Linked DNA regions of Homo sapiens. The protein of the gene in region 1 purifies or fractionates together with the protein of each later gene. This does not show direct contact. Each region holds a gene or a part of one and is shown in the gene's direction. Other genes may lie near its edges. The genes, in order: ITGA8, DSC3, ITIH2, DHRS7, NUS1, SUSD5 and OSTM1.

Region 1 (3,500 bases):
GTGTGTGTGTGTGTGTGTGTAATTAGAAATATATAGAGAAAATGATATTCGTTATCTGGGATTAGGTAAAGGAAGGCTTCTACTTTAGATTCAAAACTTTATTAACCAATAAATTACTACTATTTTCTATAGCTTTTCTTTAAGAGTATGTGCATCTGTCACAGGCCAGAGCATTGCAAACACAATAGGTAAGCATGTTTTCATTTTTACATTCTTATGGTATACTAAGAAAGTTGAACAGTAACCATTTCTCTGCACAGACCATAAAAAAATGAAAGAACCCTTGAGGAATACCAAGATATCTGTTGCATATATGGAACCTTCTAATAAATATTACTTCAATACTTGGTAATACTATTATTTATAAGAACATATAATTGTAGGGAAAATGACAACTTTTATAAAACCATTATAAAACATTTGTAGCTTGGAGAGTATGTTATACAATTTTTCCAGCTCATTTATCATGCTTGGTCTCAACTATGAAAAAGAACTGTTTCCTGAATAAGCAACTTGAAATAGAAATTCATCTCTCTGATAGAGCACTGTGTTCACTGAATACTTTTTCTCTACTTTACTTCTGTCCTTTAGTCTTGATGGCAGAGGTGCAATTAGATTCCCTGAAACAGAAAGGAGCTATTAAACGGACGCTCTTCCTTGATAACCATCAGGCTCATCGCGTCTTCCCTCTTGTGATAAAAAGGCAGAAATCCCACCAGTGCCAGGATTTCATCGTTTACCTTCGAGTAAGTATTCCAGAAAGACTTCTCTGGCCTCTCTCCTTCATATCCAAATTCCAACCATTTTTCTCCATTTAACCATCATGTTTGTCTGCATAGACCCCCATCTGTCTGTTTTCATTTTCATAGCAGGAAACTTTATTTTAGGGTCAAATACTCTCCTCTTGACCCTGACTTCAACTAACCTGATGATGTGTTGCTATTAATTTCTAAGGCTTCTTTTCATTTTGATCAAAATCTTTATAATGGCATTCAGCTCACATGGTTTTCATTTCTACCCACCTCCTCCCCAAAATACATAAAAGTGCAACACAGTTTATGTGAATTTTTCTCCTATGTGAGTATGTCTTGTTAGATTTTATCAATGCATGTTTCAGAGCCAATTCAGGAAAATATTTAGGCATTCAAAGCTTTTATTAGAAGTAACTTATAATTATCTTATTTAAAGTAATGTCTTTTTACAATGACTTCAAAACCTACCGAAATTTTAAAGTAAAAATATTTATAACACAATTACCTATCTTCACCTTGCCGGTTGTGAGGTTGTGATAACTGTCTCAATTTCTCTTTTCCATTAGGGGACTTAGTTAGCAAGGACCACCCTAGGGAAGATCACAGGTTCACAATCACACTCAAGAATGAAAAGTTGGATACCTGACCCTTGATTGGCAAACAATTGAAGGGTGACATATCCACCGTGTGTTTAGTGCTTGCTGTTTGGTGCTTACCCCTCTCTACTAAAGGAGTTCTGTTTCTTTTTCCAAAAGAACTTCAAATATCCTGAAGGTGTTCTGAAGTTCATGCAGGCAAGGGCTTAAAAAGATGATGAGAGGAAGAGAATCAAGATGTTTTCTTCTTCTGAGCCCCAAGAGAGAACTCATAAATTCTGGCAACCTCACGAAAATAAAAATCCAAATTCATGATGTTTTTTGTGACATTTATGATATACACGTGTAATCTTTTACTTTGCAACTTGACCAGTTCTGCATGAGTTGTTGAAGGTCTGGAGAACCCAAAGATTGGCTCCAGAAGCGTATTTCAATGAAGCCGCAGCTCTAAATGATTTCATCACTGCACATATATTAGGTATGCTGGCTACTATATACCACATAAATCAGCCTCCATCTAAGCCTGCTGCAAAGATAATTGTTTCATCATTCACTTTCATTGAGTAAATTCCAGTGTTGCCTGACTTTTGCAGACTGACATCTTGCAGCTATTTCATGGAGCCTCTGTTGAGTTTGTGATTATTTTTCCTAGGATGAAACTGAATTCCGAGATAAATTATCTCCAATCAACATTAGTTTGAATTACAGTTTGGACGAATCCACCTTTAAAGAAGGCCTGGAAGTGAAACCAATATTGAACTACTACAGAGAAAACATTGTTAGTGAACAGGTAAGTCCTTCACAGTCTTTGACGGCATTTTCTCAAGCAAGCTCTCTGGGGTGTTGTTCTCATGGCTTTAAGACTAAAGCCAGCTCCTTTCATTTTTACTTCTGCATGCAGACATGGAACATTTGGGAGTTTTCCTACCATGTTTCCTGAAACACTGCATGATTGTGTTTTTCGGAAGCCTTTCCTCTTGTGCAATCAAGATTTAATTTGTTCAAAATGTGGCTGTAATGGAAGCAATACAGCCTGTAATCCTCAAGCCATAGGCAGAGTTGCATTCTTTGCAGATATTTCAGAGTGCATTGGAATTGGGCTATTATGTAAAGTAGCCTGTATTGGGAGGTCACTGTGAAATGTAGGCTATTGGCTTGGGTAGAGTCATGCATAGTGAGAGGAAAGCTCTGGTTCCGTTTGTGGCACCATTCAGAATTTTCAAGAAAAAGGATGTGAATCAGATTTTCCTAGATTGTTCCTGACGTGCGTTTATACAACACAGGCTCACATTCTGGTGGACTGTGGAGAAGACAATCTGTGTGTTCCTGACTTGAAGCTGTCGGCTAGACCGTAAGTTTAAATAACTAAATGTGTACTTTCTATCTAATGGAATTACAGGTATTTATGTAAAGGTTCTCTGGAGAAAGTATACACTTCCAATAACTACCAAAAACTATGCTGCGTGAAATTCTTGAGCTTGGCTACACTTTGGGTTAGCCTGTGGTTTGGGTCAGTTATTTGTCATTGGTGTCAAATGACACACCCTAAGATTTTGCCTGGGTCGTTTCATCTTTCAGCAAAAGTGGGGAAAAAAATGTTTTTGTTGAAAGTAAACTCATTGATGGGGTGGCTCGGGTTATGTTTACTTGCCTCAGTCAAGTAGACAAAGGATTCAGACAGGCAGGTTCCATCTACACCTTCAACCAAACTTTTTTTCAGCACCCCATGACTCAAAGCCATCCTTAAAACTGTCAAAACAAAATTAATTTTAACTTATTGAATAAATAAACCTAAATAGCACTCTATGGAGTAAAGCAGAAGGTGTCACAAAATTGAAACGAATCAAAGGGCTTCACAGTTGCCAGTAATGGACGCCCCCATTCCAGCACTGGAAATTGCACTGTATTCTGTTATGGGAAGACATGGACTAGGATGTAAAACATTCTGTGGTCAAGAAACAGATTTGTGTTTCTTTCCCTCCCAGGAACTATCTCACTGCCAGTGTTTGGAATCTGCTTGGTAACTTCTCAGAGGGACTTCCCCCAAATTTCATAATTTATCAACTTCAAATGCAATCGCTTTAAGTAAGGTTAAAAAGTGGAGTAGGCATTTCCAACTATTGGCTTGATTTGCAGTTCTAAGTGAACTGCA
Region 2 (4,300 bases), on another chromosome or scaffold:
ACTTTGAGAAGCTTTCTCTGAGGTCATGCTGGAGGCACGTGGAGGATGGGAGGTGAAAACCCTGGAGTGGAGAGAAGTTTGGAGAACTTTCTCTGAGACTGGAAGAGCTCTTACATACAGAGACCTCCACTGACGGGTGCCTGGGAGATTCACACTGGGAAGCTCAACTTAGAGTGTCTGAGCCCTTAAAGCTGAGCCTCATGAGTTTCAGGGAAGCCCCAGACTTCAGGGAATACATGGCTTAGACGACGAGGAGTCTATTAGACTTGAGCCAGAGTGAGATGAATGAAGGTCATAACACCCTTTCATGATTAATTGGCTGTCTGAAATTCCCGACCTTGCAACTTTTGAATGGACTTCGAGGAGTAGCATCTCATGTCTGAGAGGGATTTCCTCCTGAATCCAGTAGATGGGAACTCGGGGAACTTAAAATTCAGTTTAGGGAGAAATAAGAGGATGTCCCCCTGGTGTTACAAACGACATCTCTATTAAAAAGTGTAGCCTACTGGGCTAGGAATGATTGTCTTTCGTCCCTTTCTGACTTTGAATTATTTCCGACAGGAACTAGATTTTCTGCATTTCCTTTCTTCCATGCCCTCACACAAAGCTTGGCCGACTTCGGGCCCTGATAAATAGTCGTTGCATGATGTAGAATCTGTAAGCCTCGTTTTAGAAGGTTTTGTGTGGTAGATATTCCTTTGACCACCTGAAAAATTTCATTTTGGTACCAGTAAGTAGTAAACCAATAATTCACATCTAAGAACAAAGTCGTTTTTAGAAGGTTCATATGAGTCCCCCAAACTGACAGTTAATAGAGCGCTGAGTGTAATCACTCATATTTTGGGTGCGTAAAAATGGTTAGATTAGAATTTCTTAAATTTGGTTTTAATTTCTGACATGCCAAAAACTGTTTATCATGCCATCTGGGATAAATTCCTTCTGTCGTGTATTTTGTCATGTTAGTCAAATCCGGAGAGAATACAGTACATGTATTTTGCTTTAATCTGAAAACATTGGCAGAATTTGTTCAGACGTCGAAGGGGAGATCCGCTGATCCAATGACAAGGGTGTTCCTGGCATCCAGCAGAGCCCGTGTCGAGGCAGGGATCCCTGCGGGCGGATTGGGGTTCTGCATTGAGATGCACCGCGCAGCGCCGGCGATGGGGCCGCCCTGGGACGATCTGGGCTGCCAGGGCCTCTCTGCGGGCCGGGCGGGGCGGCAGCGCCGCGGGGCAGCCGAGGGGCGTGGGAGAACTGGCAGAGGGTGCGCCAGAGACCGCTTTCCCGAGCGCGAACGCCCGGGTGGCTGCTGGGGAGCAGAGGGGCAGGCTCGGGCAGCTCCTCAGCCGCGCCGGCGATGATAAAACTTGAGAAATAACAAGGAGTGGCCTCTCCGCGTCCTCTGGGTCCAATCCGGTTTCAGAAGTGAAGTTGCTCCCGGGCAGGCAAGCCTGAGAGAGGCCAAATACACTTAAAAACAAGCAGCGGCGAGAAAAGCACCTCCCGCGCCCTGCACCTCGGCAGGTCTCGCTCTCGGCACCCTCCCGGCGCCCGCGTTCTCCTGGCCCTGCCCGGCATCCCGATGGCCGCCGCTGGGCCCCGGCGCTCCGTGCGCGGAGCCGTCTGCCTGCATCTGCTGCTGACCCTCGTGGTAAGCCAGATCTCGCCGGATAGGGCTGGGGTGGGGACGGGGGTGGATCCGCCCTGGACGCTGCACGGAGCTGGGGACAAAGCGGGCCGAAACGTGACAACCGCGGCTCAGATCAATGCTGCGGGTCTGGTAGCAGCCCCAAGTTCGGGCCTGCAGGAGTGAGGAGAGAAAACGTGTGTTTGCGGGTCGACTCTGGACTGAGCTTTTTGTTTTGAGACAAGGTGTTCGATTGTTGGAATTCTGAGTCGCGCTCAGGCTTCGCTGCGCTCTGGCGGGCGCCGTCGCGGGTTGGGCAGGGGGTTGGGATTCACGCTTCTCCCCAGGTGGTGGAGCTGGTGGTGATGGTGGTTGGAGGGCGCCTTTGGGTGGAGAGGATCCCTGAGAGCTCAAAGCACAGACTTGAAAAGGGATTTAGGGGCTGCCCCCTCCCCAGCTCTGGGTCGCAGTTGACCCGGATTGGTTCGTTAGTGAGTGGAGCCGGGGCTGTGTCCCTGGGTCCCTTGGTGGGGCTGCCCCTGAGAAGTGGGTTTCTCGGTATCTCCCCTAAAGGGTATTCAGAAGCTCACCCAAGCGGTCCACCCCCGCCAGCCACCCAGCTGGGGGCGGGATGTGCCGGGGGCGCGAAAGTGTGGGAAGACCGGGCCAGAATGGGGGTTGGGGTCGTGTTGTGTTTTGGGGATGCTGCCGAGGTGTGGAGGCGGGTAGAGGGTGACAGTGGTGGGGGATGATGGATGCGGTGGGGTTGCGTCGTACTTACTCCGGCTCCGGGGAGGACTGCGCGGCCGGAGCACAGCCTGGGGTTTCGAGTCTACGGAAACCTGCCGCCCAGGACGAAATCCTCTAGGAGAGGAAGTTAGAGACGATGCTCTGAGAACACGGGAGACTTGAAGTGTTCGGAACTCTGGCGGCGCGGTTACACGCGAAGCTTCAGGCTTCAACAGAGTTTCATTCCGCACGCCCAGAAAGGAGCCGCGGACCCGCGACTTACCCGCATCCATGGATGCGCATGGGGTCCGATGGGAGCGAGGTCTATACCCGCGTCGGCAGTGAGCCGAGTCTGGTCTCGCGGATTCTTACTGCTTCCTGGCCCTCCACCCTGGCAAGTGGGAGTGGGTCCAAGGGTTGTCCTCCCTTAAGGTCAGCGAGGTATGAATATGGGATTGGTAGTTATGATCTACGATATGTTTATGGAGAAGGAATTGGACAAATAAGCGCATCCATTTGCCCGGGAACTGTTCCAACAAAGTATCTGAGCTTATGAAGTGACTACAAATGGAAACGGCTTAGAGAATGTGTTCTTTTGTAATATATTTAAAAGCATTTTCAGCTTTTCAGTTTACAAGCATGCATTTGGGGTTTTGTGTTTCCTTTGCGAAGGGATTGAGGATGGGGAACGAAACTACGGGTGCTGCTCTCAGAATTTCTCGCATTCGCTCGAGGCTCCCAGAGGCCATGGAAGACCAGGAGCTTTCCCGGCAAGGCATGGGTGGGGGTGTCGAGCTGTGGCAAGGAAGAAGGTGCGCGTAAATCTAAACGGAGGAAGCTTCAGCTTTGATCTAGCACATACTCGTTTAAGATTTTTTTTTTTTAAAATAATTCCGTTGAGTTTAGGTTAAATGCTGTATCTGGAGACTTAAATACCGGAAAGTGCACAGAAAATGACTATTTCATCTGCAATTGTCAGTTTACAAACACTTGCAATTTCGGACCGGATGGGTAAATTAACACTTCTCTTGACCATCTCATGTATGTATTTCCTTCCTTTTGACTCATACGACTCTCAACTTTTCAATATAATATTAATGACACGGCATTTTAGAAACATTTTTCATTTTATAGAGACTTTAATGGATATCTTTAAACCATTACTTATCTTTAAAACATTGTTTGTTCTAAGGAGACAGCTTTTCAAAGCAAGTCTTTAACAAGAATCTGAGACTTGTTAAATTTTAGTCTTCCCAGTAAGCAGCCCAACAGGTTGAGGGAATTTTCCCATTCTGCATTTTTCCTGTATCTCCTTCCCACCGTGTGCCCCACCACACTCTGAAGTGTAAATACAGTTTCTAATAATCACACGCACAAAGAAAAAAATGACAGGGAGATACTAAAAAAAGAAGTATATCAGAGCATCTCACTCACTATTGTAAGTTTTTGATTGCCTCAGAAAGTGTTTTTTCCTCTTAATGTAACCAGAATTGTTAGGGATGGTGGAAACTAATTTACATGAGATCAGTTGTCTTCTGCCTGTTACAAATAATAAGATTCTTTTAAAAATATGTGTTAATACTGTTATCAAATCCACTTTAAGATTATGTTATCTAGTATACATTATAAATGGCACATACTTGGACACGGCTAATCCATCATTTTGTTAAAAGGGCTCCTCTTCTAAAGGAACTAAAATAGTTGAAACGTTTGCAATAACTCCCCTCAAATCTGTACTTTTCCTCTTTGGAGTATATGAACTCTGCCTGCAACCTATGTTGATAAATAGGCATCCAAATTTTTATATTTGTTAGGGTTAATGTGAATAATGTGAGTCCTTACCAGAAAAACTTGTGATGTTTTTGCTCTTGGTAATATTTGATATATTCATCATTTTAAATTAAAAGGGAGTATAGTAATTTCTAAAGGCTTTTACATTTGTGA
Region 3 (3,500 bases), 7.9 Mb from region 1:
GAACCGTTTTAATGTCTCTCAGAAAAAGGTTCAGTGACACTGGCCTTCTTTATTGCCTGCATAAAGCATAAAATGTTACTATCTTCAGAGTATCTTGGCAAGGCTGATTTGGATACTTTAATCTGGTGTTTAACAAGCTAACAGTCTGTGCTTTGAAAGGGCTAGTTCATCTCTAAGGGGATAGTTTATTTCAAAGTGAATATTTCACTGCACTGGGGGACCACCAGCTTGAGCACAGTTTGTGTCACTCAGAAAGCAATGAAATGATTTTGGCATGGAATAAGTGATGGATAAGTGATCAGCCGACATATGAGTCTGAATCCAGAATGGGATTTTCTGCGTGTGGCGAGAACGCATACCCAACGTTTCATTATGCTACTTCAACAGGCACAAACATCAACGAAGCACTCCTACGGGCAATCTTCATTTTGAATGAAGCCAATAACTTGGGACTGTTAGACCCCAACTCCGTCTCGCTGATCATTTTGGTTTCTGATGGAGATCCAACAGTGGGCAAGTGTCACTTCAACCTTCTCACGACAAACACTTTCACTGTTGTTTCTTGGAATGGTGGTTTGCCTAAAAGGGGAACTCTAATGGCATTTGCCTGAGTTTCTAGAACATTTTAAACCCATGCTTCCTAAAGGAGGTCTTCTGATCCTGCAGCCCTCACCCCTTAAGCTACTGCTCAGACACTTTCAGCAAGGGCGCTCTTGAATGCCTCAGTTCCACCTCCACAATATGCAGAAATCTGAGTCTGAATTTTAATAGTATGTTGTGAGGATTGCTGATGCATTCTAGGGAAATGCATCTATTTCCTCAACTTGAGGTATGTGAAGATGGTGTATGGGGGTGGTGAATGATGAGTATTGATCCCAGATCTCCCAGCAGTACCTTTGGAGGCCACAGTAGCATATTCCCTATTATTCTCCACACTTCTCCCGGTTGCACCTGGAGAAATGACTGCTCTCTGACACAACCTTGAAGTTAAACATTTTTCTTTCTACAAAATGGGCAGCAACATCTCCCTACTTCTATTATTTATTTTTATTTTTGTTACATTAGTTTATTTTATTTATTTTTGAAGACAGGGTCTTGCTCTGTCACCCAGGAGGGAGTGCAGTGGAGCACACACAGCTCACTGCAGCCTCAACCTCCCATGCTCAAGTGATCCTCCTACCTCAGCCTCCTGAGTAGCTGGGACTACAGGTGTGCACCACCACACTCAGCTAATTTCTTTTTTTTCTTTCTTTTTTTTTTTGGAGAGACGAAGTCTCACTATGTTGCTCAGGCTGATCTCAAAATCCTGGGCTCAAGCAGTCCTCCCACCTCGGACTCCCAAAATGTTGAGATTACAGGTGTGAGCCACTGTGCCAAGCTATCTTTGTTTTACTTGTGTCTTTATTCTGGCCACTGTAAGTAATAGCGAATGCCAGATTGTGTTGCCTGAGTGTGCTGTCGTACAGACTAGGACCGAGTCTAACACGTCCTGACACAGCCAAGCAGAATGAAAATGCACGAGGCAAAAACAATGGCAGTCAGAGCTTTAGAAAGCCAGAGAGCAACCATCTTATTAATAACGAGACTAGAATGAGCCAGTGTTATGTATTTGTTGTAGAGCCAATGTTTTCTCCCTCAGATCAGATTATTTTCAAAATTCAAGTTTTGAATGAAATCATAAGGTGGAAAAGGAAATATAGTTTAAAATATTAAACTTGCCAGGCATGGTGGCTCACACCTGTAATCCCAGCACTTTGGGAGGCTGAGGTGGGTGGATCACCTGAGGTCAGGAATTCAAGACCAGCCTGGCCAACATGGTGAAACCCCATCTCTACTAAAAATACAAAATTAGCCTGACAGGGCGGCGTGTGCCTGTAATCCCAGCTATTCGGGAGGCTGAGACAGGAGAATCCCTTGAACCCAGGAGGCGGAGGTTGCAGTGAGCTGAGATCGTGCCACTGCACTCCAGCCTGGGCAACAAAGTGAGACTCTGTCTCAAAAAAAAAAACAAAATTAAACCATAATTTGGTTTAATCATGGTTTCTCACTCCTGTTTCTCAACCATTCAGTTCCTGTCCCTGGAATCAGTCACTGGTTACCAGTTTCTTGTGTATCTTTCCACAAATAGTTTATGCATGCCTGTATACTATATATACATGTTTGCACACATGTATGTGTATATGCATACATACACATACATACATTTATACATGCATGCATGCAAATGCATCCTAGGTACCCTGATATTTACCTTGTTTTTTTTTTCTCCTCTAAACATGCCCTTGAGATTGTCTGGTATACATACATAAGGAGTTTCCATGTCCTTTTTAATAGCTGCATAGTATCTCACGGTTTAAATGTATCATCATCTAACCAAGCGCCCTCATTGGTGCATATTTATGTTGTTTCCAATATGTTGCTAATTCCCAAATAATGTTGCTATGCAACACAACCCACACTTCATTTCAACATGTACGAGTGCATCTCTAAGAAAAACTAGAAATTGAGTTACTGGGTCAAAAGGGAAATGCAGTTTTAATCTGGACACACTTTACTAAACTGCCCTCCCTGGATTTTCCAGAAAATTTATGATATTGCTTCTTCATTCCTTTCCTTTCGGACATCACCAACTTTAGGCGAACTAAAACTGTCAAAAATTCAGAAAAACGTTAAGGAGAACATCCAAGACAATATCTCCTTGTTCAGTTTGGGCATGGGATTTGATGTGGACTATGATTTTTTGAAGAGACTGTCCAATGAAAACCATGGAATTGCACAAAGGATTTATGGAAACCAGGACACGTCTTCCCAGCTTAAGGTAACATTTTCTTCTGTTCTTTTTTTATTCTTCACTGGAAATCATTTAACTACCCATATCTGATGCAGGTATGATGCATAACTGAACTTAACTCAAAATGGTCATGATCTCAGCCATATTTGGTTGCAAGGATCAGGGAAGTGCCCAGTTCCTTTCTCACATGTTTCCCCCCACCCTCATATTTCTGCAGTAACAGTGAGGTATGAGGCAGATGGGTGTTGGGAACAGCTGTCCTACCCCCTGAACAAAAAGGCCTTCTGAGCGTCATCAAAGCTCCTTGTAGCTCTCCTGCCCCACCAGCAATTGGTCTTCTTATCATCATGGCCAACCGTTTTCTCTTTAACGTGCATTGGCATCTTGGTATCAATTTTTCACAGTGTAAATTTTCTTAAGTATTAAGATACAGGCTGAGTGTGGTGGCTCATGCCTGTAATCCCAGCTCTTTGGAGGCCAAGGTGGGAGGATCACTCGAGCCCAGAGGTTTAAGGCCAGCTTGGGCAACATAGTGAGATCCATCTGTTCAACAGATAATTTTTTTAATTAAAATACATATATTGAAAAGACACAAACTACTTGTTTGTTTTGATTAAATAGATGAGAAAATGATGTAGGGAAAGAACATGTTTTTCCCTGCTCTTTGTCAGTACCAGGCATCGTATTTAAATTTGGGAACAAGTAAGAG
Region 4 (2,390 bases), on another chromosome or scaffold:
TTATTGATAAGCGTCTAAGTTAAGAAAATGCTAGCATAGCTTATTTCAAGCTAATAGTACTTGTTAACTAGAATTTGCTTCTTTAGTCTGTATGTCTGGAACTTTGTTTTTATGAATCTTTATTATTTTTAGGGATCAAGAACAGTGGCTACACTGAATTTTGTATTATCATTATTATTATTTTGTCTTTCTTAGTGCAAAGTTTTGAAAGTGGTAAATGCATATCTTCTGAAAAGAAACATCACATCTTGGGGATTATCAGGTTGCCTTGTTTTATTCCTTAAGCAATATACAAAAAGTTCACAAATAATTTTTTTTTCTTTTTATTTTTTTTGAGACAGAGTTTCCCTCTTGTTGGCCAGGCTGGAGTGCAATGGCGCAGTCTCAGCTCACTGCAACCTCCGCCTCCTGGATTCAAGCAATTCTCTTGCCTCAGCCTCCCGGGTAGCTGGGATTACAGGTGCACACCACCACACCCAGCTAATTTTTGTATTTTTAGTAGAGATGGGGTTTTGCCAGGCTGGTCTCTAACTCCTGACCTCAGGTGATCTGCCCACCTCGGCCTCCCAAAGTGCTGGGATTACAGGCATGAGCCACAGTGCCTGCCTGGCCACAAATAATTTTAAAGAGTTATCTTCCATATATCTCAATTCTACATAATCTGACTCATTGTTTTTATTTATTAGGGCAAGTCAGTGTAGGTATGATATGCTGATCCAGAAAAGTCATTATAGAGAATTTAGCATTGCAGTCCAATGCTATTTATACCTCCTCTAAACCAGAGATGATGCTAAACTCATTAGAAGTACTTTTGTGTACATCTAGAATTTTGGCTATGATTTTTAAATTCTAATTTAAGCAGTTTCTGAACTTTTGTAAAGATTCTTAATAGTGAATCATAATGATACAGCTCCTCAAAACAGAAGGACTTAAATGTTAAAAACTGGAGTAAATAGGAGTAGGTACTGATCCATGTTTCTGTCCCTCTTTTACAGGATGCAGACTCTTCTTATTTTAAAATCTTTAAGACAAAACATGACTGAAAAGAGCACCTGTACTTTTCAAGCCACTGGAGGGAGAAATGGAAAACATGAAAACAGCAATCTTCTTATGCTTCTGAATAATCAAAGACTAATTTGTGATTTTACTTTTTAATAGATATGACTTTGCTTCCAACATGGAATGAAATAAAAAATAAATAATAAAAGATTGCCATGAATCTTGCAAAAAAGGTATTAACTCATACTATATTCTTGGATAAAATAACCTTTTAAAATACTTTAGCACATATGCTTAAAATCTAAGTTAACAGATTTGTCTTAGTCCATTTGTGCTGCTATAACAAAATACCACAGATTTGGTAATTTATAAACAACAGAAATCTGTTTTTCCTGGCTCTTGAGGCTGGGAATTCCAAGACCAATGCACCAGCAGAATTAGTGTCTGGTGAAGGCTGATCTCTGCTTCCAAGATGGCACCTCATTGCTGCATCCTCCACAGTGGAGGAATGTATGTCCTCACATGGTGGAAGGGACAGAAGGGAAAGAGGAGCAAAATGCTTTCAAAAGAGCATTTAATCTCATTCATTACTCAGTCACCTCTTAAAGGCCACATCCTTTAATACTGTTGCTTTGGGGATTAAGTTTCGACATGAATTTTGGAGGGGACAAAAACATCCAAACCATAGCAACATAAATGTATAGAATATTTCACACAAAGCAGAGTGCTGGGTAATGACCAGATATAAAGAAGTATTTGAAATGACCTTACCTCCAAGATGCTTATACTCTTAGAAAAGTTGACAGGTACAGATGGCTGTAATTTGAAGCAGCAGGTAGGATTCATTGCACCTATTATTCATTAAACACCTGTTGTATGTCTTCTACTGTACTGGAGTGCTTAGTATTAGTTAATTAACTCATTCCTCATAACAGCCCACTAAGATAGATGGTATTACCTACCTTGATAGATGAAGAAAGACCAACAAGGTTTTACTTTTCCAAGGTCAAGGTCACAAAGCTAGTAAGGGGTAAAGCCATGATTAGATTCAGCTCAGGAAGATTCCACTGGCAACTCCTTACTTCTACTATTATTAATTTTACTTTAACATTTAACACCTTACAGCAGAAAACATGCACAGGCACTAATAGGAAATCAGCAGGAGTAACAGGTAAAGAAAAACATGGTCCTTATCTACAAGCAGTTCACAATTGAGCTGGAGCCAAAGTAACATACATAAAATAACTGTAGAATAGTTGTTGGGCAAGTTGGAAGCCACCCAAGTGGCTGTCCTTGGAAAAGGGGGAAGATGACATGTGGTAGAGGTACACGATGAGGTATAGCGGGTAGAAGCAATGGAATAAATGCATACATAACAACATGGATATGTA
Region 5 (3,500 bases), on another chromosome or scaffold:
ATGTAAGTGCAATGAGGAAAAGTAAAGCAGAGAAGGGAAGATAGGAATGTTGAAAGTCAGTGGTGTAGGAAGGGGTACAGTTTTAAATAGGGAGGCCAAGGAGAGGCTCTTTGAATATAGACTTGAAAATATAGGCCATGTGGATATGTAAGAATCACTCAGAGGGAGTATAGACATGTAAGCTTTATTTAGTGTTTCTTTTTCAGTGGTTTTTTTTTTTTTTTTTTTTTGAGACGGAGTCTCGCTCTGTCACCCAGGCTGGAGTGCAGTGGTGTAATCTAGGCTCACTGCAACCTCCGTCTCCCAGATTCAAGTTCTCCTGTCTCAGCCTCCCCAAGTAGCTGGGACTACAGGTGATGCGCGCCACCCCGCCCTGCTAATTTTTGTATTTTCAGTAGAGACAGGGTTTTGCCATATTGGCCAGGCTGGTCTCAAACTCCTGACCTCAGGTGATCTGCCTGCCTCAGCCTCCCAAAGTGCTGGGATTACAGGTGTGAGCCACTGCGCCCGGCCATATTCAGTGTTTCTAAATAAATGTCTATTTAAGCTTATTTCTAGATAGATATTTAACTATGAAAAATCCTATTGACATACTCGTAAATGCCACTGGGATACAAGAAGTACAAGAAATGGTGTCTCTTAAAGAGTTTCCACTCAAGTAAGGATGTCCATTAAAAATTAACACAAGCTAATATAGAAATGCTAAGTGAATGGCAGATACTTTAAGGAGCGAAAAATGGAAAATTTCCCGGGTTACCTCCATATTTGTCTGGTAAGGAAGGGAGCAACACCTGAGCTGGACCTAGTCAAAAAGATAGAATTGGGATTGGCGTGAACAGTGTTCTCTGTGTGTGTGAATGGGGATTTCCCTAATGGCAGCATTCTCATTAGACTAGGTTCAGTAATAGCATTGAGTAGAGTGTTGGGAGCAGTGAATTTATGTAATGAACAGTTGGGAAATGAGGTAGGATGAAGGCTTGGACAGCTATTCTGGTTACCTACTGCTTTGTAGAAATCTACCCAAAGCATAGTGTTTTAAAACAACAATTTATATATTGACTTAGTTCAGTTGGGCAGTTTTTCCTTTGGGTCACTCATAGCTTTCATTCAGATAGAGTCTGGGACCCAAAGGTTTCTCCTTATGTCTGGTGCCTGGTTTTTGATGGCTGAAATAGATGGGGCAGGTTGGTCATCTGGCTTCACATGGTCTGGAGGTTGACTTCAGGGTAACCAGTTAACTAACTTCCCCCAGAACAAATGTTTCCAGAGACTTGGCCAAAGGCTGAAGCTGAAAGATGTCTTAGGACCTAACCTAGGAAATCATGCAGTGTTATTTTTGCTATGTTCTCTTGGTCAGAGAAGTCTCACATCTGTTCTGCATCAAGAAAGTGGAGAAATGGACTTCACCTCTCAATGAGAAAATGGCTTGTGTAGAAAGGTTGGGTGAGGATTTGAAGGGAGATGGACGGGCAGCCACTTTGAAGACAAGCTTACCACCTTACATTTTATTCTGTCCTACACCCCTTTGCTCTCAAATTTGTACTTAAATTCGTTCTAATTATGGTTGGATCTAGATAACAACATTTAATCCTTAGACTAAAAGATCTATTATATTGACCTTAATTTGACTGCCAGCAAACTGATCTTTTTGTTTTTCACTACCTGCAATATTTCTTGATTATAATAGAGTCTGCAAGTAATTCTTTCATCTTTCAAAAATTCAGGTTGTTCTCTCAGGACAGTGATCAGGAATTTTTTGAGTTCAGAATTCTAGCGAGATTTGGCTGTTCTGTCTATATGATTATAATTTAAGAAATGACCATAACTGGGATGGTACAAGAACCAGGGGTTGGGGTAAATGGATTTTATTGTTCTAGCCTTAGCAGTGTTGTTTGCCTGTGTCTCACATGCAGGTACACTTGGCTCCAAGTTATCTGGATATGTATTGTTATCTTAAGTGATGGAACTTGTTCTTATTTCCTGGCTTTATTGTGCCTTGCTGGGAACCTTGCTGTTGATTGGTATTTTTCAAAACCTGTCTGTGGACCATCTGTGAATTAGTCATTGGGGATGCTTATAAAAAATGCAGATTCAACACACTTAGTAATCAAACTTAATGAGGGAACTGGGACCTGGGCGTCTCTGTTTTTATCAAGCTACCTGTATGATACTTCTGCACACTGAAGTTTAACCCTAACACAGATCAAAGGATACTCTGCTACTTGCCTTACATTAGATTATTTATATTTCATGTTCCTTTTCATGATTGAGGATAATTTGGGGTAAGCCTTAGGATTATTTGCTGTAAATTGGAATGATCCAGAATAAGGCATTGCCTTCTGTGTGAGAATTCAACAGTAAGACAACAAATTTTTTTTGTGTGCTGCTCTTTCTAGTGCTATTTCCTTAGTTTATTTAAATCGAAGCTAGGTTGCTTTTGAAATGGTTTTTGGGTACAGGTTTCTCACAGTAACATTTTAAAAGTCTGCCCAGTGTATCCTATCTTTTCAACCTGTTTCTCAATGCTTTGCATACCTTTTGCTATGTCTGTATTTAGGTATTTAATGTTCCAGTTTCCTGGAACTCCCTCTTCTCCTTTTTCTGGCAAATGGCTGTATGCCTACCAAGAGGCTATTGTTCATCTTTTCCGAGTCAATCCTAAATATCACCTTGTATATTTTTGCCTTTCTTGACTATTCACTCCGTTCCCTATCTTACTATATCTCTGAATCTCCTCAGAACTTCAAACATCTCTAAAGGTACTTCTGTTCTCTGCTTTGTGTAGTCATATTTGTATGTATATGTGCATAAACTTTCTTACTAGATTATAAGCTCCACAGATGCTATCCATCCTTCTCATTTTTGCTTTTCTTACAGAGTGTATCTTGGTGTTATGCATGTAATGAATAGTTAATATGTGTTCCTTGAATTCAAAGAAGGGCCGCATTTCCTGTAGATAAGAATAATGAACTGAGTTGCACTCTCTGCTTCCCAACACAATACCCAGAAGCCTTAAAGTAATGGAGGAAAATGAACATAGTTTACCCTAGTTTACTTAGTTGGCACAGTGACACAGATGCTATTGAGAAGTATGATTTTCTTAAGTTTATTCTCCTTATGTTGAAATACAGAGGTGCCGGAAATGTTGAAAGTCTAAATATAAATGTGATTACATTTGACATACTGAATAGTACAACCTAGTGTTTATCTTCCCTCATGTGGAAACTCATGTAAGGGAGCATTCTATTCTTAATCTCTACCTTTGTGTAGTTGACTTTTTGTACAGTTTCACATTTATCTTAACATCCTGAAATGTCCTCTTCACCTTTTTCTGGCAAAGGGCTAGCTACCTGTCAAAAGACTGTTGATTCTTTTCTTTTTTGACATGGAGTCTGGCTCTGTCGCCCAGGCTGGAGTGCAGTGGTGCGATCTCGGCTCACTGCGACCTCTGCCTCCGGGGTTCAAGCTATTCTCCTGCCTCAGCCTCCTGAGTAACTGGG
Region 6 (3,500 bases), on another chromosome or scaffold:
TGGAGAGCAGTGGCACAACCTCGACTCATTGCAACCTCTGCCTCCTGGGTTCAAGCTATTCTCCTGCCTCAGCCTCCCGAGTAACTGAGATTACAGGCATGCACCACCACGCCTGGATAATTTTTTTTTGTATTTTTAGTATAAAAAGTAATTTTAGGGTTTCACCATGTTGGCCAGGCTGGTCTTTGACTCCTCACCTTAAGTGATCCATCTGCTTCAGCCTTCCAAAGTGTTGGGATTACAGGCATGAGCCACTGCACCTGGCCAAAAAAAATTTTTTTAATTAGCTGGGCACAGATGCATGTGCCTATAGTCCCAGCTATTCAGGAAACTGGGGCAAGAGGATCACTTGAGCCCAGGAGTTCAAGATTACAGTGAGCCATGATCATGCCACTGCACTCCAACGTGAGTGACAGAGCAAGACCATGTCTCAAAAAAATTTTTTTTTAACTTTTTAAACTTTATTGTTAAAAACTAAGACACAAACATGCACATTAGCCTAGGCTTACACAGGGTTAGGATCACCAATATCACTGTTTGACACCTTCACGTCTTGTCCCAGTAGAAAGTCTTCAGGGGCAGTAAGACACATGGAGCTGTCATCTCCTATTATAACAATGCCTTCTCTGGAATATCTCTTGAAGGACCTGCCTGAGGCTGCTTTAGTTAACTTTTTAAAAATAAGTAGTAGTACACTCTAAAATAATGATTAAAGTATAGTATGGTAAATATATAAACCAGTAACATAGTCATTTAGTATCATTATTGAGTATTTTGTACTGTACATAATTGTATGTGCTATACTTTTATACAGTTGGCAGTGCAACAGGTTTGTTTACACCAGCATCACCACAAACACATAAATAATACATTGCTCTATGATTTTACAATGGCTACATCACTAGGTGATAAAAATTTTTCAGCTCCATTATAATCTTACGAGACTACCATCATATATTCAGTTCCTCCTTGACCAAAATGTTGTTATGTGGCACATGACTGTAATAAAAATTAGAGTAGAAATCAGTAAAATTACAAACATAAAATCAATGGAAAAAAATGTTGGTTTTTTGAAAAGAGCAATAAAATGGATAAGCCTCTAGCCAGACTATGAGAGAAGATGCAAATTACTAATATTGAAAATGAAACCCCAAAGCAAGCCGTAAAACTTGGAAATACTATTATAGCCTTCTCCCACCTTTCTGTGTAGCACCCAGCCTGAAAGAAATAACTTGACCTACCTTGTTTGGTAATAGGTCATAAGACCTATATTCCAGAGAGGTTCTGCCTATATCTAGGAGAAAATAATGCTACACAGAGAGGCCAACAAGAAGCTCAACAAACAAACCTTGCTGGGTTTCCCCCTTTAGTATATTACCATTAGATCATACCCCTTTTGTCCAATCACATTTCTACACAGCTGTCCATTCTTCTTTGAATCTAAACATAAAAATCAACAGTTTTCCCTGGTTCTTCGGGTATTGATTTCTGAAGGCTCATAGGTCACATAAAACTGATTAAACAATTGGTTATGCTTTTAAAAAAAAGAGGGGACATCACTACAGATCCTATGGACATTAAAAGGATAATAAAGGAATATTATGAACAACTCTATGCCTACAAATTTGATAACCTACATTAAATTGTCCCATTGTAGAGAAGAAATGGGCAATCTGAACAGGCCTATAGCTATTAAATAAATAAATAAATTGAATCAATAACTAATTACCTTCCAAAGAAAGCACAAGCCCAGAGCGTTCACTAGTGGATTCTGCCAAACATTTAAGGCAGACATTATGCCAATTCTCTACAACCTTCCAAAGAAAGCACCAAGCCCAGAGGGTTCACTAGTGGATTCTGCCAAACATTTAAGGCAGAAATTATGCCAATCCTCTACAACCTTCCAAAGAAAGCATCAAGCCCAGAGGGTTCACTAGTGGCAGAAATTATGCCAATTTTCTACAATCTTTTCCAGAAGTTAGCAGAAGGAATACTTTCTAAGCCATTCTATGAGGCTAGTATTACCCTAACACCAAAACCAAACAAAGACATTACAAAAAAGACTACAGACCGGGCCAGGCGCGGTGGCTCACGCCTGTAATCCCAGCACTTTGGGAGGCCGAGGCTGGCAGGTCACGAGATTGAGACCATCCTGGCTAACACGGTGAAACCCTGTCTCTACTAAAAATACAAAAAATTAGCCGGGCGTGGTGGTGGGCACCTGTAGTCCCAGCTACTCGGGAGGCTGAGGCAGGAAAATGGCATGATCCCGGGAGGCGGAGCCTGCAGTGAGCCAAAATCACGCCACTGCACTCCAACCTGGGCGACAGCAAGACTCCGTCTCAAAAAAAAACAAAACAACAACAAAAAAAAAACTACAGACCAATGTATCTCATGAACATAGATGCAATTATCTTCAACAAAATATTAGCAAACAAAATTCAACAATGTATACAAAGATTTGTACACCAAAACCAAGTGGGATTTATCCCAGGTGTGCAAGGCTAGTCTTCAAAATTAATATGGTCCATCACATCAAGAGGTTATGGAAGAAAAATCACATAATTATATTGATAGATGCAGAAAAGGCATTTGACAAAATCCAACACCCATTCATGATAAAAACTCCTAACAAACCAGGAATAGAGGGGAACTTCTTCAACTCAATAGAAAACATCTAAAAACAAAAACAAAAACAAAACAAAAAAACCTACAGCTAACATCATGATTAAGGGTAGAAATTTGAAGCTTTCTTACTAAGATCAGAAACAAGGCAAGATGTCTCTTTTCACCACTGCTTTTCAGCATTGTACTGGAAATCCTAGCTAATACAATAAAATAAGAAAAGAAAATATAGATTGCGAAGGAACAACTGAAACTGTCTTTGTCTGCAGATAACATGATTGTCTATGTACAAAATCTGAAAGAATCAACAACAACAAAAAGCTGGAACTAATAAGCAGTTATAGTAACAAACCCGCACGTTCTGCACATGTATCCCAGAACTTAAAGTATAATTTTTTTAAAAAAAGCAATTATAGCAGGATTGCAGGATACAAGGTTAACGTACAAAAGTTAATCACTTTCCTGTGGACCAGCAATTAAATAGTGAAATTTTAAATTAAAAACACATTACCAGTTGTGTGCAGTGGCTCATGCCTATAATCCCAAGACTTTGGAAGGCCGAGGTGGGAGGATCACTTAAACCCAAGAGGTCAAGGCTGCAGAGAGCCATGATCCCACCACTGCACTCCAGCCTGGGCGACAGAGTGAGACCCTATCTCAAAAAAACAAAAAAGCCAAAAAACACCATGTTACCATTTATATTAGCACCCCAAGGAAAAATGAAATTCTTAGGTATAAATCTAACAAATTACGTACAAGATCTGTAGATCTAGATGAAGAATACTGTAAAACTCTGATGAAATATATCAAAGAAGAACTAAATAAATGGAGAAATAGTCTATGTTCATGGATTGTGAAGATGTCAGTTTTTCCCA
Region 7 (2,833 bases), on another chromosome or scaffold:
ATTGTTTCTAAATTATTTCAATCAGATGAAAGTGATACGATTGAAATGAAATCACATAGTTCGTGCTCAGAAATTCTATTTTGGTATGTTTGTATTAGCCTTTAGAAAAAACACTCCGTTTCAGAATTGTTCACAGTTTTATTTCTTAGGTTTTTAGAGTTCAGGATTTCATTTATTAATTTCTTCTTGCTTTTTTGGTGGAAATAGGCTTTGTTGTAAACATTAAGAATATAAAATCTCCTCTATATAGAAACAAGAATTTTGTTAAAAAGAGAATTTGAATCCCTTCCTATACTATAAAATGCTCTATAGGGAGACAAAGTGTTTCTTTTTTCTTTTATGTTTACTGTTTATGTGGAGTGAAATATAAGGCTCTTGGATGTATAACATACTCAAAAGCTGTTACACTTTCTCTGATCTGCTGTGATCCACTGAAAATGTGCTGGGGTTTGTTCTGCTGTCACTGTTTATGCTGCTGGAACTTAGCACTGTCTTGATTTGAAGCATATGATTGAGAGCCATTTGAAGCAATCTTCATTAATGCAGATAAAACAAGTTTACATGTGCAGAGTTAGAAAATGACATGTTCAATTCTGTAAGTGGTGACTTTTTGAGCACCTTTCAGTATTATGTATTTGTAAAAACCATTGTTTTTGGATATAAAGCTAATAAGCACTTTAAAAAGGAAAAGGCAGCCTTTACTATTTTTTCTGGTTGAGTCATTGCTCTTTAGACCTAGCATCAGCAATAGATTTCAAAGATAAGTATTAAGCGCTACCCTAAAGTGTGTAAGTTTTTCATTTTGTCATATTGAAAAATGATTTGCATAGTACTGAATGTTGACACACAGCTTATATGTATTTACAAGAATATCTTTAAGTGTTTTTTTGACACATTAAAATAAAGGAAATAAGGAAATTGTAAGCTTTATTTGGATTTTTAAATACATTTTTAAAATTTCAGATGTAATTTAACATCACATTTGTTTTTCAGGTATTGAGTTTAGATGCCTACTTTTATGAGTACCATCAGCTGGACACAGTGTCTCATACCTGTATTTGCAGCACTTTGGGAGGCTGAAGCAGATCGCTGGAGCTTATGAGTTCGAGACCAGCCTGGACAACATAGTGAAACACTGTCTCTGCAAAAAATACAAAAATTAGCTGGGTATGGTGGTAAGTGCCTGTAGTCCTAGCTACTTGGGAGGCTGAGATGGGAGGATGTCTTGAGCCCGGGAGGTGGAGGTTGCAATGAGCCAAGATTGTACCACTGCATTCCAACCTGGGCGACAGAGCCAGACCTTGTCTCAAAAAAAAAAAAAAAAAAAGAAAAAAGAAAGTACTGTCTGTCTTAAATTTTGCTGCAAATAAAAATGTACTTTGGATTATTTATTGTTGAACTTGAGAGATAGAAATAACATCAGATATATTTTTTCTTTTTTTTTTATAATTAATTTTTTTTTTTTTTTTTTTTGTAGAGACAGTGTCTCACTATGTTGCCCAAGCTGGTCTTGAACTCCTGAGTTCAAGAGATCCTCCTGCCTTAGCCTCCCAAAGTGCTGGGATTACAAGCATAAGCACCACACCTGGCTGAACATCAGATATTTTAAAGTGTAGCCCAGAGTCTAGTTGGTAAATGTTACTTATATTGGGACTAGTATTTTCTAATGTTTCTGGGATATGCTCCCTATAAAATGAAATGTTTTCCTGGAACAATGCTAATTAGGATTGCATTCCTGGCCAAAGACATGACATCAAATAAGTAATAGACATCACCAGCAATGAATTTTGAAAAGCAAAAAATACTATTAACCTATATAACCATTTAAAATTTAAAAAATTATGTTCCAAGTACCTCTATTTTCTGAGCTAGAAGAAACCTTAGAGGCCATCTGATGATAGATTCCCAGAGCTGGATGGATCCCTAGGGACTACCTAATCTGACTTTCTGTCCACTGCATGGATTCTTCTAAAAAGTATGTCACTTATTTCCCTACCTTATTAAGACTAAATAAGTGGAACATCATAGAGCTCTTTATTTATAACAGTCATTCTTTGATAGTCAACTCTTAAATGGAGACTTGAGATGCTTAAATATTGTACTACTGTGCTTATCTTGTAAAGATTTCATAAAATGATAGTATTGGTTATTTTAAAAAGGCTTTGGCTTATGCTGAATTATACATGTAGCACCAAAATGTTACAACTCTACTAAATTTCCTTGTTCTAAACTATTATATTAGCTATAATAAATATTAGTCATACATGTAACATGTTTAATGACAAATAACTTTCTTTATCTCCTTGGAATTAAAGAGGGCTTTTAAAAGATAATTTGACTGATCCATGCTTCTTACAGTGTGGAGCTTTGCAATGATGATTTTTTAAATATGTTTTTCTTGTGATAAACAGGTATTTTTTAAAATCTGCTGGGTGTGGTGACTGGTACCTGTAATCCCAGCACTTTGGGAGGCTGAAGCGGGAGGATCACTTGAGCCCGTGAGTTTGACACCAGCCTGGGCAATATAGTGAGACCTTGTCTCTACAAGAAATTAAAAAACTAGCTGAGCATCATGGTGTGTACCTGTAGTCCCAGCTACTCAGGAGGCTGAGGTGGGAGGATCGCTTGAGTCTAGGAGGCAGAGGTTGCAGTGAGCCAAGATTGTGCCACTGTACTCCAGCCTGAGTGACAGAACAAGACCCTGTCTCAAAAAAAAAAAAAAAAAATCCATCTCAGTACCCCAATGCAATCAAAAGATTTCAGAGCTTTAAAATGAATGATGCTGGGTGCAGTGACTCCTGCCTGTAATCCCAACACTTTGGGAGGCTGAGGC

What was found.
Region 2: the proteins of ITGA8 (region 1) and DSC3 purify together in Homo sapiens (affinity purification with mass spectrometry; one large-scale study listed by BioGRID and IntAct). This does not show direct contact.
Region 3: the proteins of ITGA8 (region 1) and ITIH2 purify together in Homo sapiens (affinity purification with mass spectrometry; one large-scale study listed by BioGRID and IntAct). This does not show direct contact.
Region 4: the proteins of ITGA8 (region 1) and DHRS7 purify together in Homo sapiens (affinity purification with mass spectrometry; one large-scale study listed by BioGRID and IntAct). This does not show direct contact.
Region 5: the proteins of ITGA8 (region 1) and NUS1 purify together in Homo sapiens (affinity purification with mass spectrometry; one large-scale study listed by BioGRID and IntAct). This does not show direct contact.
Region 6: the proteins of ITGA8 (region 1) and SUSD5 purify together in Homo sapiens (affinity purification with mass spectrometry; one large-scale study listed by BioGRID and IntAct). This does not show direct contact.
Region 7: the proteins of ITGA8 (region 1) and OSTM1 fractionate together in Homo sapiens (co-fractionation; one large-scale study listed by BioGRID). This does not show direct contact.

What each region holds. Positions count from the first base shown.
Region 1 is NC_000010.11:15,604,923-15,608,422, reverse strand, and holds part of ITGA8 (integrin alpha-8 isoform 1 preproprotein), read left to right. Parts: intron 1-132; coding exon 133-188; intron 189-591; coding exon 592-746; intron 747-2,000; coding exon 2,001-2,138; intron 2,139-2,631; coding exon 2,632-2,699; intron 2,700-3,500. UniProt on the Homo sapiens protein: Integrin alpha-8/beta-1 functions in the genesis of kidney and probably of other organs by regulating the recruitment of mesenchymal cells into epithelial structures.
Region 2 is NC_000018.10:31,039,943-31,044,242, reverse strand, and holds the start of DSC3 (desmocollin-3 isoform Dsc3a preproprotein), read left to right. Parts: upstream 1-1,500; 5' UTR 1,501-1,582; coding exon 1,583-1,651; exon of another isoform or gene 1,652-1,801; intron 1,802-2,408; exon of another isoform or gene 2,409-2,710; intron 2,711-4,300. UniProt on the Homo sapiens protein: A component of desmosome cell-cell junctions which are required for positive regulation of cellular adhesion. Required for cell-cell adhesion in the epidermis, as a result required for the maintenance of the dermal cohesion and the dermal barrier function.
Region 3 is NC_000010.11:7,727,316-7,730,815, forward strand, and holds part of ITIH2 (inter-alpha-trypsin inhibitor heavy chain H2 precursor), read left to right. Parts: intron 1-387; coding exon 388-513; intron 514-2,636; coding exon 2,637-2,818; intron 2,819-3,500. UniProt on the Homo sapiens protein: May act as a carrier of hyaluronan in serum or as a binding protein between hyaluronan and other matrix protein, including those on cell surfaces in tissues to regulate the localization, synthesis and degradation of hyaluronan which are essential to cells undergoing biological processes.
Region 4 is NC_000014.9:60,143,619-60,146,008, reverse strand, and holds the end of DHRS7 (dehydrogenase/reductase SDR family member 7 isoform 1 precursor), read left to right. Parts: exon of another isoform or gene 1-995; coding exon 996-1,043; 3' UTR 1,044-1,890; downstream 1,891-2,390. UniProt on the Homo sapiens protein: NADPH-dependent oxidoreductase which catalyzes the reduction of a variety of compounds bearing carbonyl groups including steroids, retinoids and xenobiotics.
Region 5 is NC_000006.12:117,678,469-117,681,968, forward strand, and holds part of NUS1 (dehydrodolichyl diphosphate synthase complex subunit NUS1), read left to right. Parts: intron 1-3,500. UniProt on the Homo sapiens protein: With DHDDS, forms the dehydrodolichyl diphosphate synthase (DDS) complex, an essential component of the dolichol monophosphate (Dol-P) biosynthetic machinery.
Region 6 is NC_000003.12:33,177,311-33,180,810, reverse strand, and holds part of SUSD5 (sushi domain-containing protein 5 precursor), read left to right. Parts: intron 1-3,500.
Region 7 is NC_000006.12:108,040,909-108,043,741, reverse strand, and holds the end of OSTM1 (osteopetrosis-associated transmembrane protein 1 precursor), read left to right. Parts: 3' UTR 1-2,333; downstream 2,334-2,833. UniProt on the Homo sapiens protein: Required for osteoclast and melanocyte maturation and function.